2 linked regions of the Homo sapiens genome follow. The protein of the gene in region 2 purifies or fractionates together with the protein of the main gene of each other region. This does not show direct contact. Each region holds a gene or a part of one and is shown on either strand. Other genes may lie near its edges. The genes, in order: CCDC85C and NEUROG1.

What was found.
Region 1: the proteins of NEUROG1 (region 2) and CCDC85C purify together in Homo sapiens (co-immunoprecipitation; 2 studies listed by BioGRID and IntAct, with this or other methods). This does not show direct contact.

What each region holds. Positions count from the first base shown.
Region 1 is NC_000014.9:99,593,759-99,601,875, reverse strand, and holds part of CCDC85C (coiled-coil domain-containing protein 85C), read left to right. Parts: intron 1-8,117. UniProt on the Homo sapiens protein: May play a role in cell-cell adhesion and epithelium development through its interaction with proteins of the beta-catenin family. May play an important role in cortical development, especially in the maintenance of radial glia.
Region 2 is NC_000005.10:135,533,487-135,541,269, forward strand, and holds NEUROG1 (neurogenin-1), read right to left. Parts: upstream 2,479-7,783; 5' UTR 2,205-2,478; coding exon 1,491-2,204; 3' UTR 796-1,490; downstream 1-795. UniProt on the Homo sapiens protein: Acts as a transcriptional regulator. Involved in the initiation of neuronal differentiation. Activates transcription by binding to the E box (5'-CANNTG-3').

The sequences.
Region 1 (8,117 bases), on a different chromosome or scaffold from region 2:
GCATGTTTTTCCTTTATTTACCATCCTGAGCCTGTGGGTTCAAGGCAGGACTGGGTTTAGAGGGATATTTTGTTACTGATTAGCAATCTATGGCTACAACTCAGGTTTCTCTTTGTAACACTGTATCCACCCCCACCTCCCACCACAGGCTGCTTCAGGGCAGTGGGAGTAGCGCAAAGTTAGGTGGTTTAATTTGCTGGGGCTGTTCAGAGCACCTCAGCCCCTTTGATTTTGCCGTCCTGGGGGCTTTTGAGGGGTCAGTTATCTGGGCCTCGGTTTCCCTAAGTGCAGTCCAAAGAGCAGATTGCTGCAGTCTCGTGGCTGGAAAGTGAAATGTTTCTGGTTTTCAGCTGCGTCATCAATGACACTTGGCAAGAGTGCCTCTCTGCAGGACACTGGAGGGCTGGAGTGTTTAGAGCATACTTGCAGGAAAGGCTCTGTCGAGTTTTGGGCAAGGAGATGCGGCCCCAGTCTGGCTCAGCATGTCAGCTGCGACAGTGAATAATACAGGAGTGGAGGACTAGGCTACACTGAGTTTTCCACCCCACTGGGGGTCAGTGGGAGGTTGAAGTATAGGGTTTCCCACAGAACCCATCCTCCCCCAAGCCCACTTAGCACAGGACTGCTGCAAATGTTGTGGCAGCAAACCTTGCTTTGGGGTGAAATGAAAATTCAGCATTATTATTACAAATTTCGGTTACAGATGGAATTATTATTATTTAGTTTTGTCTCTTAAAGCCATGTGTGGCCTTGGGATGTGGTCCCACTAATGTAAATGGAAGGCTTGGAAACCAGGAAAGGCCCTTCTCTTAGAAACTGAGCTGTTCTTTCTTTCTTTTTTCCCTTTTTTCGAGACAGGGTGTCACTCTGTCACCCAGGCTAGAGTGCAATGGAACACTCATGGCTCACTACAGCCTCAACCTCCCAGGCTTAAGTGATCCTCCCAGCTCAGCCTCCCAAGTAGCTGTGATTAGAGCCATGAGCCACCTCACCTGGTGAAACTGGGCTTTTCTATTCTGGGACTTGTAACTTTAAATTGAGCAAAGATTGGGCCTGAGCTGAGGGAGATAATGAGTCTCTGTCTGGGTGGTGTCTAAAGTGGGGTCAGACACCAGGCTTGCGCCTTATGTGTTTGGTCTTTGCTTCTTCTCACAGGAACCCTGGGGAAGCAGTATTATCCCCATTTGACAGACAAGCAAGTGGAGGCTTAGAGGGGTTCCTAGCCTTGTCTGGGAAGGTGGCTGACATTGGAAGTACCTGTCCTGGGTGGGTTTGCTGCCATGATCATCTCGTGTTCAGGCCTTGGGTCTGAATCTGTTGTGCCCTTGGTCTGTTGTCATGTTTGCTGTTACTGTTAATCAGGGGACACTGGTGACTCCCTATTCTTGATTCCTGACCCAGGTTTGCCCTCTTTCTCCCATGCTGGGAAGTGTCACTTCCTTATCAGTGACCATTGAGCAGATGGCTGATAACCCCGTTACCCAGAGGCTCAGGGTGACTTGAGTTTGAATCTCAGCTCCTCCATGTATACTGGGCAAGTTATTAACTGGCCAAGCCTCTCTGTGCTCCTCTTCTGTAAGATGGACAGAACCCAGAGTGCCCCATTATTCACACAAGGTTGAGTGAGGTCAGGATCTACACACAGTAGGTTTCTCCTGTTGTTAGGGTCCTTGGGGCTCTCCCAACAGACCTCAGTTTCCTCTTCAAAAGTGCTTGCTGCTTAGACAGCTCACCTGAATGTTTGCATCTGAGCCTCTTGTGTGGCAGCACTTGCTGATGAGCTAGTGAGGACAGTGGCCCTGCTGTCCTTTCTGGGGAGCTGGTGGCAGTTGCAGCCCTGCTGGGTGCCCTGGGCAGACTCTAGTGGCTGAGGTGGGAGGTGGCCCATCTGTATGCAAGGCAGCCCTGGCTGAGGCTGGCCTGGTGGGCCTGTGTATTGTGTATGTACATGCAAATAGGCTTTTCTCCTTGGCTGCTTATTTATTTATTTATTATTTATTTAGAGACAGGGTCTCTCTGGTCACCCAGGCTAGAGTGCAATGGCACCATCATGGCTCGCGGCAACCTCAACCTCCTGGGCTCAAGTAATCCTCTTGCCTCGGCCTCCTGGGATGTGTGCTACCATGCCCAGATAATTTTTGAATTTTTTGTAGAGACTGGATCTCACTATGTTGCCCAGGCTGGTCTCGAACACCTGGGTTCAAGCAGTCCTCCTGCCTTGGCCTCCCAAAGTGTTGGGATTACAGACGTGAGCCACTGCACCTGGCCTTGGCTGCCTTTGGTAGAGGTCTGGTCTGGGCTGACTGGACTTGGGACTGGGCTGTGCGTTGCTCTAGTCCAGTGTGGCACACTGAGACAGGTAAACCCCAACACCAGAAAGTCAGGTTCTCCTTCATGAACTGATAGGATTTTCAAACAAAAGAATTTTCAGTTCTTTTTCCAGCTGCCCCTCCGCCTGTCTCCTGTGCCCCACGACAGGCACCATGCCCCCCTCCTGCCCATTGCCAGGCATTTCCTTCCCTCCCCTGATAACCTGCTCCTCCACGGTCCACTCCCCTTTAGCCAACCTGGAGGAACTAGGATTCTAGCAAGCCTGTGCATGAGCCCCATTTACTTTTTAAAGTTCGGATTAAAATTTTGAGCTTCTCAAAATGAGACAGGTTTGTTCTCCTGCTTGTGTTTTTGTTGGTTTAAGAGGGAGGATGGAACGGGGTGGTCTGGGCCTTTAGAAAAAGACAGAGCACGCTAACTCTGAATAGGTCTTTTCTGTGCAGCAGCTCGGCTAATAAGGCTGCTTTTCCTAAACCCAGCCAAGCTCAGGAACAAAGGTCAGTGAAGACAATGGGGTGGGTTAGATAAGCCTTTCCCCCTCCTTCCCCAGCCTGTCCCAAGGGATCCATCAATGGCCTTGGGATGCTGGGCCTCAGAAAGGAGGGCTGGCCTTGAGAGGCTCCCAGGCAGGTGACCCAGGGGTGGGTAAACTGTGCCCAGTGCTTCACAGTTTGCCACAAACAGCATCCCAGTCCCAATTCCATTCTGTTCAGAGCTTCCAAATGGTCCCAGGAGGGAGACCTTAGCATCTCCATATCTTAGATGGGGAAATCAGGGCTTGGAGTGGTGGTGCGGTGACTTGCTCTAGGTCCTGTGGGGCTGATTGGGGGGCCTGGGATGCGTCTTGGGTCTCCTGTGTCAGAATTCTGAGCCCATGGCCCTGTGCCTGCTGCCCAGAGAGTTCCAGGGGAGCGGTGACCTCTGCCACAGAGACAGGGCACCTCCTCCCAGGATGCCAGGCCCGGGGCCTCATTCCTGTCTCCCTGTGTCCTGGCATGGAGGAGTGGGGGAAGGCGGTGCAGGGTGGGCCACCTTCCCTACGATGGCTGTGGCTCCCCATCTCTTGGTTTCTCCTTCCCTCACTTCTCTGCACGAGGCTGGCTTGCCACCGCAGCAGTCGCCCCACCAGACCTCTTGCTCAGGCCTGGCCTCTGAGTTCCCAGGACCAGCACGTGATACAGAAGGAAATCAGTGGTTGCTCCTAATCTGTTTTCCGCCGGTGGGGATTTTCCAATCCATGCTTGTTGCCTTCATTTGCGCAGAGAATTGGAAGTCTGTTAAGCAAGTTCCTGAGCCTCCATGGGCCTCTGTTTTCTCTTTTGCCAAGTGGGAAAATGTTACTAACCTTTGGGTTGAGGGAGGAGGGTGTGTAGTGAGTGATACGTGTAGCCTCTGGCGGGTGGCAGCCCCTGATGTGCGAAGGCCCCATCTCCCGCTGCAGCGCTCGGCACCCCGCATGCCGAGGGGCATGTAGCCCTCTGGTTAGTGATCTGCCTCCAGGGTCAGAGAGCCCTGGGTGAATCTTGGCTTTGCCACCTGCTTTATGGCCGTGGCAGCTTACTGAACCTCTAAGCCTCAGTTTCTTCATCTATATCCTGAGGCTAATAATGTCTCGATCCTAGAACTGGGCCTTAAAGGATGGGTTCCATGTCCTTTCATTATTTCCTGGCCTCTGCGGATTTGCCTTCCCTGGGTGGGAGTGGGAGATCCCCTGACACACGCTGGTACCCAGTGTAGGGTCGGAGGCAGCTGAGTCCTCATCTAGTTGAATGGAGGGAGCCAGCATTCCAGGCAGGAATAAGAATGGCTAAGGTTTGGAAGTGGGGTCTGGAGCATGGCATTGAGAATCCGGGGCCTGCAAGGTGGACCCAGGATGTGTGTGGGGAGATAACTCTTAGGGGGGTTAGTGCTGTGGGCAGCCCCACAGGGCAGACCCCAAAGTCCCAGCTTTTCAGACTTCAGTGCCCACAAGCAAGAGTGGCCCAGGTGGCCTGTGTTGCCTCCAGGGCTGGGGAGCGCTGTGTCAGGGGAGGTTGCGTGGACACTGAGAAGGGGCATTCCTGAATCCACTGAGGATGGGGCTTGTGGACACCCCAGACAGCTCTGGGAATCTGGTTGAGATGTGGGTTCTAAGACACGCCCCACATTACAACTGGGAAGGGAAAATGCCCAGCTTTGAATGTGTGTGTTCAATCCAATCTGGTTGAACCCAGAGCCAGGTGGGAAGCGGGACTTGACCTCACAGGTGGTAATTTGCTCTTCAGGAGGAAGGGAAGCGTCTGCGGACTTCACTGAGCATTTACTGCCTCTGAGGTCTGAGTGCCTCCTGAGCAGTGATTCTTGGAGTCTGGCTTGGGGGGTGGTGGTTCTGGAGCATCACTCTGGTGACCACTGTGGTGTGGGCTGGGCTGGGGGAGCAGTGGGTGGAAGCTGAGGGCTTCCATCGGGAGGAGGTTCTGGCCAGGAGAGTGGCCACAGGAGAGAGCCTTCTGTAGGTTCCAGACCTGGTGAGTCTGCTCCAAAGTCCTGCTCTCAGCTGCTATCTGCCTTCTCATGACCTCTGTCCTCTAGGGCAGGCGTCCTGAGCTCTTGGGTGGGGCTCAGGCAGGACAGCGCCTGTGGGAGATGCTGCCGCTCCCAGGTGGCTGCTGTGCCCTCCATCCCCAGCGCTGATGCTGCTCCCCGCTACTCCCATCCCTACATCTAGGGTGGTTGGGATCAGCGTCTGGGATCTAGGCAGGGACCACTCTGGGGTTCAGAATTCTCATCTCCCTGCTACATAACAACAAGAGACTCTATTGGCATCCCCAAAGGCTTGGGGATAGAGGAACAAACTTGTCTGCTAAAGGGACTTGATGCTTCTTTGATCATAACATGTCAGAAATGGTCCCCCTCCCCTAGGCAAGCACCCAGGATTGGACACTCATACATCCCCTGTCCTCACAGGCAGAGGGTTCTGGGCAGGCCTGGAGCCGGGTCAGCCGGGGATGGGTGCCTGTTCTTCAGCAGGTCACCGCTGACCTCCAGCTCTTGAGGGGAGCAGAGCAGAAAGATCAGGATTGTATTGACTGCCTGTAAGTGTTCTTGGGTTTGCCTTATGTGTACTGTTCAAACAGAGGCGTGGAGCATGTTTAACTACAGTAGATGGCCCTGGGGAGGAAGCGAGGGTCTGATTCCCTTTCCTTCTTCCTGATTCCTCAACGGCAGAGACATTCTGCCATTTCCTCAGTTCAAAGCTGGGCATTTTCCCTTCCCAGTTGTAATATGGGGCGTGTCTTAGAACCCATGTGGACATTTGCTGGCAGGTCTTCCCCTCTCTGCCCCTGGAAAAGCCCTTGAGTAGACTGTGTCTGCGGCTGATGGTATCTGAGAGTGGAACAAATGCCAGGCCCGGGAGAGCCGGAAACCCCTGAGCAAACTTCACAGAGTCCTAAGGCACTAAGAGACTTGAGAAAGACAGGGGCCCACCCCAGGGCCAGCCACATGGGTGCTGGAGCCCTCCCTGCCCACCTGGGGCCCTCTGTCATTACTGTCTCTTCATCTGGGAGTTTATGAGCCTGGGACTCTGGTCCTCTTGACTCCCAGCCTTGGCACAGAGTGGCAGGTTCTGAAAGTCTTTTGGATGGAACAAACGTGTGCCTGGCACTGTGCTGACAGCAACTGGGTTTTCTCTCACTCGCCTCCCACAACAGTTGCTGGTCCCCATTGGGGTCCCTGTTTCATCTAAGGAACAGGCCCAGGATGGTGAGGCAAGTTACAGCAGGGGCAGGGTGGGGCTGGGCCAGGTCAGGGACTCCCGTCCAGTTGAACCCGGAGCCTGTGCCAGCCGGTATGTCCCGGTTCCCTTGCCCTGTGGGTGTGATTATTCATCATGCCCCTTTCCCTCAAGGAAATGCCCAGGTTGGGCTCTTAACCTCTTCAGGTGTGCTGGGAGCTCAGAGGAGGGGTGGCCGAATTGGGAACTGAGATGGGCCTTGAAGATGGAGTTAGTAAAAGCAGAAGAGAGCAGGTAAGAAGAGAGACCAGGCTTCGCAGAAAGAACAGCTGAGCTGGGCGGATCACCTGAGGTCAGGAGTTCAAGACCAGCCTAGCCAACATAGTGAAACCCCATCTCTACTAAAAATACAAAAATTAACCAGGTGTGGTGGCACGCGCCTGTAATGCCAGCTATTTGGTAGGCAGGAGAATCTCTTGAACCCAGGAGGCAGAGGTTGCAGTGAGCCATCGCGCCACTGCACTCCAGCCTGGGCCACAGAGCAAGACTCATCTCAAAACAAAACAAACCAAAACCAAAACCAAACGAAACCAAAACAAAAAGAAGAGCCGAGCAAAGTCATGCGGTGGGCATTTGCCTGCACCTTGGGTTCAGCTGGGGTGATGGATGAGTGGGGACCCAGGACAAGCACTGGGGCAGTGAGCAAGGCCAGGGCCGGTGGGGTCTTTGAAGCCTCTTCTACTGTCCCTGAAGTCCCTAGGTTGGGCTTTCCTTCGGGGTGTGGGCAGTTCTAGCTCTAACCTTTTCTGATGGACTTTCCAAGAGGACCCAGAGTTACCTGTTAGAAGTCCTATTAGAAACTGGAAACTTTTTACAGCTTATCCCCATCTTTCCCCTGCTCCCCACCTGATAAATATGCAGACACATCACCTGCTGGGCCTGAGTGGCCTTGTCAGCTGACATGCTCCCTGCCTGGGGGTCTTGGAAGATTACTAGTGTTCTGTGGATTGGACGATCCAGACAGAACCAGTGGCTTCAGCCCACTTGAGACCCAACCATGTGTAAGTCTGTGCCTCTCCCTGGGCCCTCATTTTCCCATCTGTAAAATAGGAAGCTTGGATGGGCTGAGCTGAGAGTCCCAGGGACCCTCATCTCTTCTGGCCCTTTGACTCAGAGCCACAAGGAAGGGGTGGCCTCCCCTGCCCATCCTGCCTCCTATCGGTCACTCAGTGGTCCTATGAGCCAGCTCTTTTATATTCCTGGGAATTCTCTTCCTATGCCCTACAGCCTGGGTTTTATCACCTGCCTCGTGGTTGGTCCTTGCCTTGGGGCAGGTGTGGGGATGGTGAGGCTACCTGTGACCACATGGGTCCCACTGTGGGGCCTAGAGATGGTGACCTGTCTAAACGCTGTTTGAGGCTGAGACCCTGGCCCAGACCAGCCTCCCCTCCTGCAGGGCCCCAGTGGAAGTACCTGCCTCCCCTATCTGATTGCCTCTGCTTAAAGGACTCAGTAAGGGGTTTAGTGCAAGAGGAGAACACTGAGCTTCAATTCCTGGTGCAGGTTTGCTGGGGACAAGGCTGCATGTTCCTGGACTCGAGGTTCCTCTGCTTGCTGTCCTGTCTCTCTCCCAGTCCAGAATGTTGTTGCAATGCATAGTCAGTGTTGGAGGGAGGAGTGAACAGTCCCGGAAGGACTGACCAGGTGCCAGATAGTGGTTGACCCACTTTGCCCACCTGTCCTTCTTTTCTCATTTGTACACTTGGCACCGAGTTAAATAAGTTACTCCCCGCCCCCCGCCCCCACCCCCAGCAAAATCAAACCTCCCCAAGAGGGTGGTGATTTACACAACCCCACCTTCCCCATTTCCCCTGAATAATTACTAAAATATATACCTTTTGGCTTTCACCAGTGGTTCCTAATTGTGGCTGTATATTAGCTATCACTTAGAAAACTTTAAAAAATACCAGTGCCCGTGCCCAGCCCCAGAGATGGGTGCAGTTGGTCCTGGTGTCATTGGAGGCTGTGAAGGCTCTGGAGGTTCTGCTGGGTGGCCAGAGCCAGGATCCCG
Region 2 (7,783 bases):
TCTCTGGCATCAAATGAAAGCTTTAGCTATTGCCCCTGAGGCCTGGCTGAGCAAGCCCTGCACCCGAGCCCTCCCTCTGTGTGCCCCCCCTTCCCCACCACTATGGGCCGGAGCGGGTGTTAAGTGTGTGTGTGTGTGTGTGTTGGGGGGATGGGGGTTGAGAAGAATGCAGGCACCCTAGCTCACAATCTTAGGCAGCTACACACCCCACTCAGGACACCACACCAGCATGATTCATCCCACACCTCACAGCCAGGGTGAACTCGGCCTCAATGGACAACAATTTGGAGGCATTGTTTACAAATTAATTTCCCCCTCTAAATAGGCTGTTATAAGAGTGGACCCTTCTGCTTGCCTAGCCTAGGCCCACCTGTCACTGGGACTTCCTAACCAGTGGTCACACTGTATTGATCTTTTTAATCCCCTCTCTTTGAAACACAGAGCCAGCTGATGTGGAGTTCCTCAAAAGAAAGACTCTCCCACTGCCCCTACCTCAACAGGTAGCTGCGGATCCGGGGCTAATTCCCTACTAAAAAGTCTTAATTGGCTTATGGGGAGCCTGAAAGATCTCCCTTGTGTTTACAAGGTGAAAGGAATGATAGATCCCAAATGCCCTAGTCTGTCTTTATCCATTTCTTGGTGGAAATCAGGTGCGTTTTATTTTTTAATTGTTTTTGAAACAGGAACAGAGGCTTTGGAGGTGAGTGGGATAGTGTTTCACTTTAGTGGTTGAGCCAGCAGGGAAAAGCAAGAAAAGCCCCAGAGACACTAATATTAGGCAAGAAACTTGGCGACTTATTTTTAGTTTTTATTTACATGAAGCGTCTGCAGTACAAAAATGTAAACTTTGATAGCTCATAATAGAATAAACTCTTTATGTACAAAAATACATTTTCATATGAATGAAGCATCTTGAATAAATTAAAGTACTCTCCAGCCCTGTGCCTGAATAGCTAAGCAAGAGTCTCCAGTTCTTCCTAGAGCGAGTCTGCAGTGGTGGGGGTCGGGATCCATAATGCATGAAGCCCACTCCTTGTCTCTGCTTTTTAAGCCTTTTCATTGTATTGTCAGCCGGCTCAAACCGAATTTTCATGCTCGTTTTTCTTCATTAGAGTTCTACAAATTGTAAAATTGACTTTTCACCTCGTCTTCAGGGGCTGATCTGTCCCTTTTCTAAATCACACTGAAGTGGTGGCTGGGGTCAGTTCTGAGCCAGTCACAAAGGAGGTTTTGTGGAGTTCAGAAAGTGCAAAAGGAAAGGCCGTCTAGGGGCGGGCAGGAGGGGCGCTGGGCTGAGGGCCGGAGAAACAGACCAAGAGACATCCGCCGCGAGGGTGCGGCGACCTAACAAGCGGCTCAGGTATCCCCGACTGCTTTAAAGCTCCCGCTTCCTCCCTCCGCCTGGAGAGGGGGTCCCGAGGCGGCAGCTGGGGCCCCATCTATTGCCTGCTGACTAGGGGAGGGGGAAAGTAACAGTGTCTACAAAGGGCCTAGTGGTAAGGAATGAAACAGGGCGTTGTGTGGAGCAAGTCTTTGGGCAGGCTTGGGAAGGAGAAAACAGGGTCGCCGGGGCGGTAGGTGAAGTCTTCGGAGGCGGCTGGGCTACTGGGGTCAGAGAGCGGGGAGGCGGCGGCGGCACCTGAGCCCCAGGACTCCGCGTCGCTGGCGGGGCTTGGGGGACCGGGCAGGCAGGGGACGCACTGCGGCGGCAGGAGGCGCTCCCGGGCACCGCCTCCGGGCAGCCCTTGATCCGCCAGGCGCAGTGTCTCGGCCAGAGCCCAGATGTAGTTGTAGGCGAAGCGCAGCGTCTCGATTTTGGTGAGCTTGGTGTCGTCGGGGAACGAGGGCAGCACGCTGCGCAGTGCGTCCAGGGCCGCGTTCAAGTTGTGCATGCGGTTGCGCTCGCGATCGTTGGCCTTGACGCGCCGGCTCCTGCGCAGCGAGTGCAGCAGCGCCTCGGAGCGGACCCGCGTCCGGCCGCGGCGCCGCCGCCTCTCCTGCTCGTCGTCCTGTGCCCCTGGAACCTCAGACGCCCGGGAGATATTGGGCGCGCCCCTGCGGGCCGGCGCGGGCGGCCCCGAAGCGGAGGCTGCCTGTTGGAGTCTGGCACAGTCTTCCTCGTCGGTGAGGAAGCCGGATAGGTCACTGCCGCTGCTGCTGGCGCAGTCGAGGTCGGAGATGCAGGTCTCAAGGCGGGCTGGCATCGTTGCGCTGTGCAGGACCGACGGACAGATAGAAAGGCGCTCAGAGCGCTGCAGCCCGGACTGAGGGCAGAGCCGCCAGGGCGCACTTACGTTCCCAACAGCCTGGGGTTGTTACTCTGTGCCAGTTGCGGGTGCGAGAGCCTGGAAGGGTGCAGGGGCGCACGGAGAACTTGGCCTGGCCTCCTCGCCTCGCCTGCAGGGGCCACGCGCCCGGCCGGTCTCCTGAGTGATGTCGCCGGCGATCAGATCAGCTCGTGTGAGCACCGAGTGTGGCACACGACTGGCCTCAGGACCCCTTAAGTACCCGGCGCAACAATGGGCGCCCCCCTCCCTTGCCACCTCCGCCCCCGCGGCAGCCCGGGTGAATGGAGCGAGGCGGCAGGTCATCCCCGTGCAGCGCCCGGGTATTTGCATAATTTATGCTCGCGGGAGGCCGCCATCGCCCCTCCCCCAACCCGGAGTGTGCCCGTAATTACCGCCGGCCAATCGGCGGCGTCGCGCGGCCCCGGGAGTCGGCTCGGGCTAAGCTGGCCAGGGCGTCTCCAGGCAGTGAAACAGAGGCGGGGTCGGCGGGCGATTAGCGGCCGAGGCACGCTCCTCTTGGGGCGGGCTGGGCGCCCCTCGCTGGGGTGGGACGGGGAGGCGGGGCGCGAGCGCGAAAGTGTGAGCCGCCCAGTGAGTTGCGGAAACCTGGAGGGTACTTGGAGTTTGGGTTCGCATCCCCTCTCCAGCTGCTTAGTGGTCGCGTGACTTTGGACGAGTAATTTAACTTCCCTGAGCATTGCTTTCCCCACCTGTAAGATGAGACAAAAGTTTACCCTGTGGAGGATGATCAGATATAATGTTTGTGGAACACTAAATGTGCAGCATCCGCTGAACAGGGTGAAAATCATTTTCAAATAGACTGGAGAGTGGCCATGCCAGAGGCACAGGGCGCAGGGCAAGGATAAGTGTCGCTGCTCCGTTCAGGCTGATGAAGAAACGGGAAAGAATCTGACCTTCATCTGGGGAGTGCGAAGAGGAGAGTGGAAAAGAGGATCGGGTGATTTCCCAGGTTGCCTTGAGTCTTGGTCTCACCCTTCCCTTCTTTCCCTTCCCTTCTCCACCCTCCTCCGCACCTCTGCCCACAAGTCACCTCAAGATTCTTAATAAGAATTAATAATATGAGAATTTATATAAATAATAATATGAGAATATAATTATTAATATGAGAATTTCCTTTTCTTTGGCGTTCCTGAAACCTTGCCTGCCCCATGCCCGGAGAAATCCGTTGCACACCGTCTCTTGGAGCCCTGCTTGCAGCCTCTGTGGCCCTCTTCAGGGTGAGCCAGCCAGGGGATCCAGCTCCCCTGGCCCGAGAGAGAGCTGGCCCCTGGAGGGCAGCAGGTGACAGTGGAACCCCTTTCCTCCAAACCCCCTCCCGCCTTCGGTGTCTTAAACTCGCCTATTCCAGCAGGTCTTCCCTCTGCATGTCAGGAGTTACTTTTCTCTTGTCACCTACACTCACCCAGGAGCCACAGGGGCCCAGACATCACCCAACTTTGTACTTGGAGGATAAATAGTAAGGAACAGCACTCGATTATAGGATGAGGGTATTAAAAACAAAATGAGCAGCTTTCAGCAAAGTGCCTGCCCCCCACCTGATATCCAAGTGGTAGCCTCAGGCCGGATGCCTGGCCTGCTGCCATGGGAGCCTAGCTGACTCTTTGGGTTGGGGGGGGATTGGCCCCTTTGAGAAAGGGGGCTGTGTAGTGGCAGTTCCCACCTCGACTCACTGACCAGCGCTTGCCTTCTGGCTCAGGGGACTCTGCCCAGCTGTCCCCTTCCCCGACTGCACCCTGCAGGTACCCCTGATCTCAGTGGAAGGCTAGGACACAGTCATATATAAGGGCTCGAGATTTATTAGAAGTCACAGAAAGTGGCTTCGACCAGCTCACTCAGGAAAGGGCAGTTGTTGGATGGATACGGGGGCTTCTCAAGAACTCAAGGGCTTCGAGGACTTGTGTAAACCAGCAGGAGCCCAAGGGTCCTCTCTCTGCCCCCCACCTCTGTTTCTCTCCCTGTGTCAGCTTCCTTTCTTTGGACTGCCACAACAAAATTCCACAAACTAGGGGGTTTAAGGCAACAGAAGTTCATTCTCTTACAGTTCAAGAGGCCAGAAGTCTGTAAGCAAGTTTTTGGCAGGGATGGCTCCTTTTCGGAGGCTCTGAGAGAAAATCTGTGACATGCCTCTCTTGCAGCTTCTAGTGGTGGCTCCTGGCCATCTTGGCCATTCATTGATTGGCAGCTGTGTCACTCCAATCTCTGCCTCCTTTCTTCATGCGGCCTTCCTCTCTGTGTCTTCTCCTTCTCTGTCTCTTGTAAGGACACTTGTCATTTGATTTAGGGCCCAGCTAATCCAGGATGATTTAATCTTGCAACCCTTGCCTTCATTATATCTGCAAAGATGCTTATTCCAAATAAGGTCCCATTCTGAGATTCTGGGTGGACATATCTTATGGAGGCCCACTATTTCAACCCACTACAACAAATGGTTTTCCAAATTCCTGAATGAGAGAATTGGTTTGGCCAGTGTCACTTTTTTGGCTGACAGGTACGTGAAGAGCTTTCCTGTTGAGAAATTTGAATGCATGAGAACCCCTTCCCCATTCCTAGCAATTAGGGTGTGGCCAAAAGATTTTAGTACAGGCAGTTAGCTGCCCCATTTGCAATTTAGGCTCAGAGCTGGTGACAGTCTAGAGTTCACTTGTGTCATGGCAACAACCCGGGAGAGCCAGTGACCAGTGGTGGAAGAGGTGGCCAGGAACCAGTGGACATCCTGTCTGAACTCTTCCCAGGGCCAGCCCTTGTTCCATCTGTTTTTTGAGCCTGGTTCTCCAGCCTTCCCACTGATTGCATGAGCCCTCCCATAGCGGGCCTTTCGTTAGTGGGGCTTTTCTGCTTCAGATAGCCAGGATTAGTGTCTGCGGTTTCATAAATAAAACACCAAGTTAAATCCTCAGGTTGCTGAAGCATAGAGAATTATCCTTGTATTATTTTGAAGTAATCCATTGGCTATGTTGATTGCCTGTGCTGGGCCAGGCACTGTGCTGGACACTGGGGTGACAGGGGTGATAAACTTGGCTGATGGGTATCATGGGCTCTGAGTCTTGCAAGCCAGGGTTCAGTGCCAGCAGAACCTTTGGAAATTATTCATCTATCCACTGCACCTCATACATGGGAAACTGAGGTGGGAGATGGGGAGGTCTTTTTTCCAGGTTACCCCAGGGATCGCTGGTGGTCAAACTAGGCCAGACTCAAGAGTCCTTTCAGGCCCTACTCTATGTTCTTCCATCATAGTCAATCAACAAATATACATGGAGAACCTACTGCATGCTGCCCTGTGTCAGGTGCTCTGTGGAGTGTGAAGCAGGCCTATAGTCCTAAAGGAGAGGAGATGTAGCATTAGGACTAGAGAGGTGTCGAGGGCCTATTAAGGGAGCAGATCTGAAGAGCATTGTGCACCTCCCAAAGGGAAGGCTTCTTGGCAGAGGGGGGACTCGCGAAGGCCTTGAAGGATGGGTGGGATGCGAATAGACAATTTAAGGAAAGAGAGGACTGGGGGTTACTATAGTGGCTATGTGGGTGCTGGTCTGGAGGATAGGGCTTCTGGGTGAACCCAGTGGAAAGAGGGTAAGGGGGCAGTTATGGTGGCCCTTGAATGGCCAGGGCAGCCTTCCTTGTTCCATTCCATCTCCTCCTCTTGCTTCTTTCTCTGAGCAGGGCTGTTAAAATTGTTCTAGTCATTCACTGTACAAGGACATCTGGTAGAGGGGGCAAGTAAGGGCTGAAATCTAGCCTCTCTACCACCCGCCAAACCATGCACCCTGACATGGGCTACACCTGTTCAGAGAGGGCACCTTGTCAAATATGTCCAGACGCACCTTATGAGCTAGCAGTAGGTCTGTGCCTTCTCCTGCCATGCTTCACTCCCTTTCCTGAACCTTAGAGAGCTGAGCAGGCAAGCATCCAAGCCTTGCCCTGCCTGCTCCTGGCTCTTGGGCAGGGCATGTTGTGGCTCCTTCTTGGCTGTTAGTGCCTACCCCTTGTGCTTTTTATAAGTGCATCTGCAGGGGGCCCTCCTATAAGTGATCTACTGAGGATGGAACTGAGCCCTGGCAGGATGAGAATGAACGGGCAGCTTAAGAGGCCCAGAGCCTCTCCTCAAGAGAAAAAGGCCAGGCCACAGTTAGAAGGATGTGCATGCTTGCCAGGGAAGATGAAAGTTTCTCCTGCCCCTCGAAGCCTTCTAAGCATAGTACCTGAGTGTACCCTCATTCTCAGAGTATAATAGAAGGTGATGTGGGCATGTAATAAATCCAACCACAGCAGGCGCTGCTATGGTGAGCACCATACCAGGTGTTCTGCCTGATGTGTGGACATCCAGCTGCCAATCTGCTGGGGGGCAGGGGAGGGTAGCCAGATGTTCCAAGGTGGGGCAGATGTTCCAAGGGACTAAGGATTAAGCTGGAGCTTCTTACACTGTGGTTACCTGGGGTAGTAGTGATGGTGGGGGTCCCCACCCCGTACCCCTGGAATCAGAATCTCTGGAGCACATGCTAAAGTCACTATTGACTGATACCTAGAGCCAATTTATTCACACTAGAATCGATATTTTGCATTAGCAACCACCCTCCTATCCTGTGCTTGCCTCAGCTCTTGAAGCAGGTCAAGTACATTTATGTGACAGCTAAGATGAGCTCTAAGGGCATACCTGTTCCAGGCAGCCCTAGGGATCTGACTCAAGACTCTGGTGGGACCAGCAGGGATGTGATTTTACTTCATCATCAAGAAGGCCTTTCTGGCATCGACACACTGATGAAGAAACAGCTTTCTTGAGAGGTGAGAGGGAGGGACTCTCAGGGTGCAGCAAGGTGTTGGATGCTTCCAGGGTCTTGAGAGACTTGGTTTATTATTATTTTTTAAATAAAGGCCAAAATAGGGGAGAAATGGTGGTAAATTATAAAAGTTTACATATAATAAATCAATGTGGTTAACAAATAAAAATATAAAGGAGTCTGTGCTGTTCACAAGGCAATTTCAGGATTTTAAAGTGACCATCAAATTATAGTGCCTGTAGGCATAGAGATCCAGGGATGGATCCAGATTGGAATTTGTGACGGAGCATCTTCCTCTACCCTGTCAGTGTCTCAGTGACCATGTGTATGTCCTCGTTTGGAGTTAGAGTCCATAGCCTTCCAGCCCTTTTGTAAAAGCAAGGTTGAGCCAAATAGCCTCTCTGCTGGTTATCAGAAACACTTCAACCTGGGGTTAAGAGATGCTGTAACAGGAACTGGACTGGAAGGTTAGTGTCCTGTAATAACAAGTACTGAGATGATAATCTGAAGGGGCTGAGGGGAAGGGGACACTATCACATTTCATACTTTCCTTGCTAAATTGTTTTAGCTCAGATTGATTATTCTCCATCCCCTCCAGTTGGTTAGATAGAATATTAATTTCAAGAGTGCTGTGGCACTTCCATGTAGACCTGAGTTTTGTGGGGTTTCAAAGCAAAGTTGTTTTGTTTTTTACAGTACACA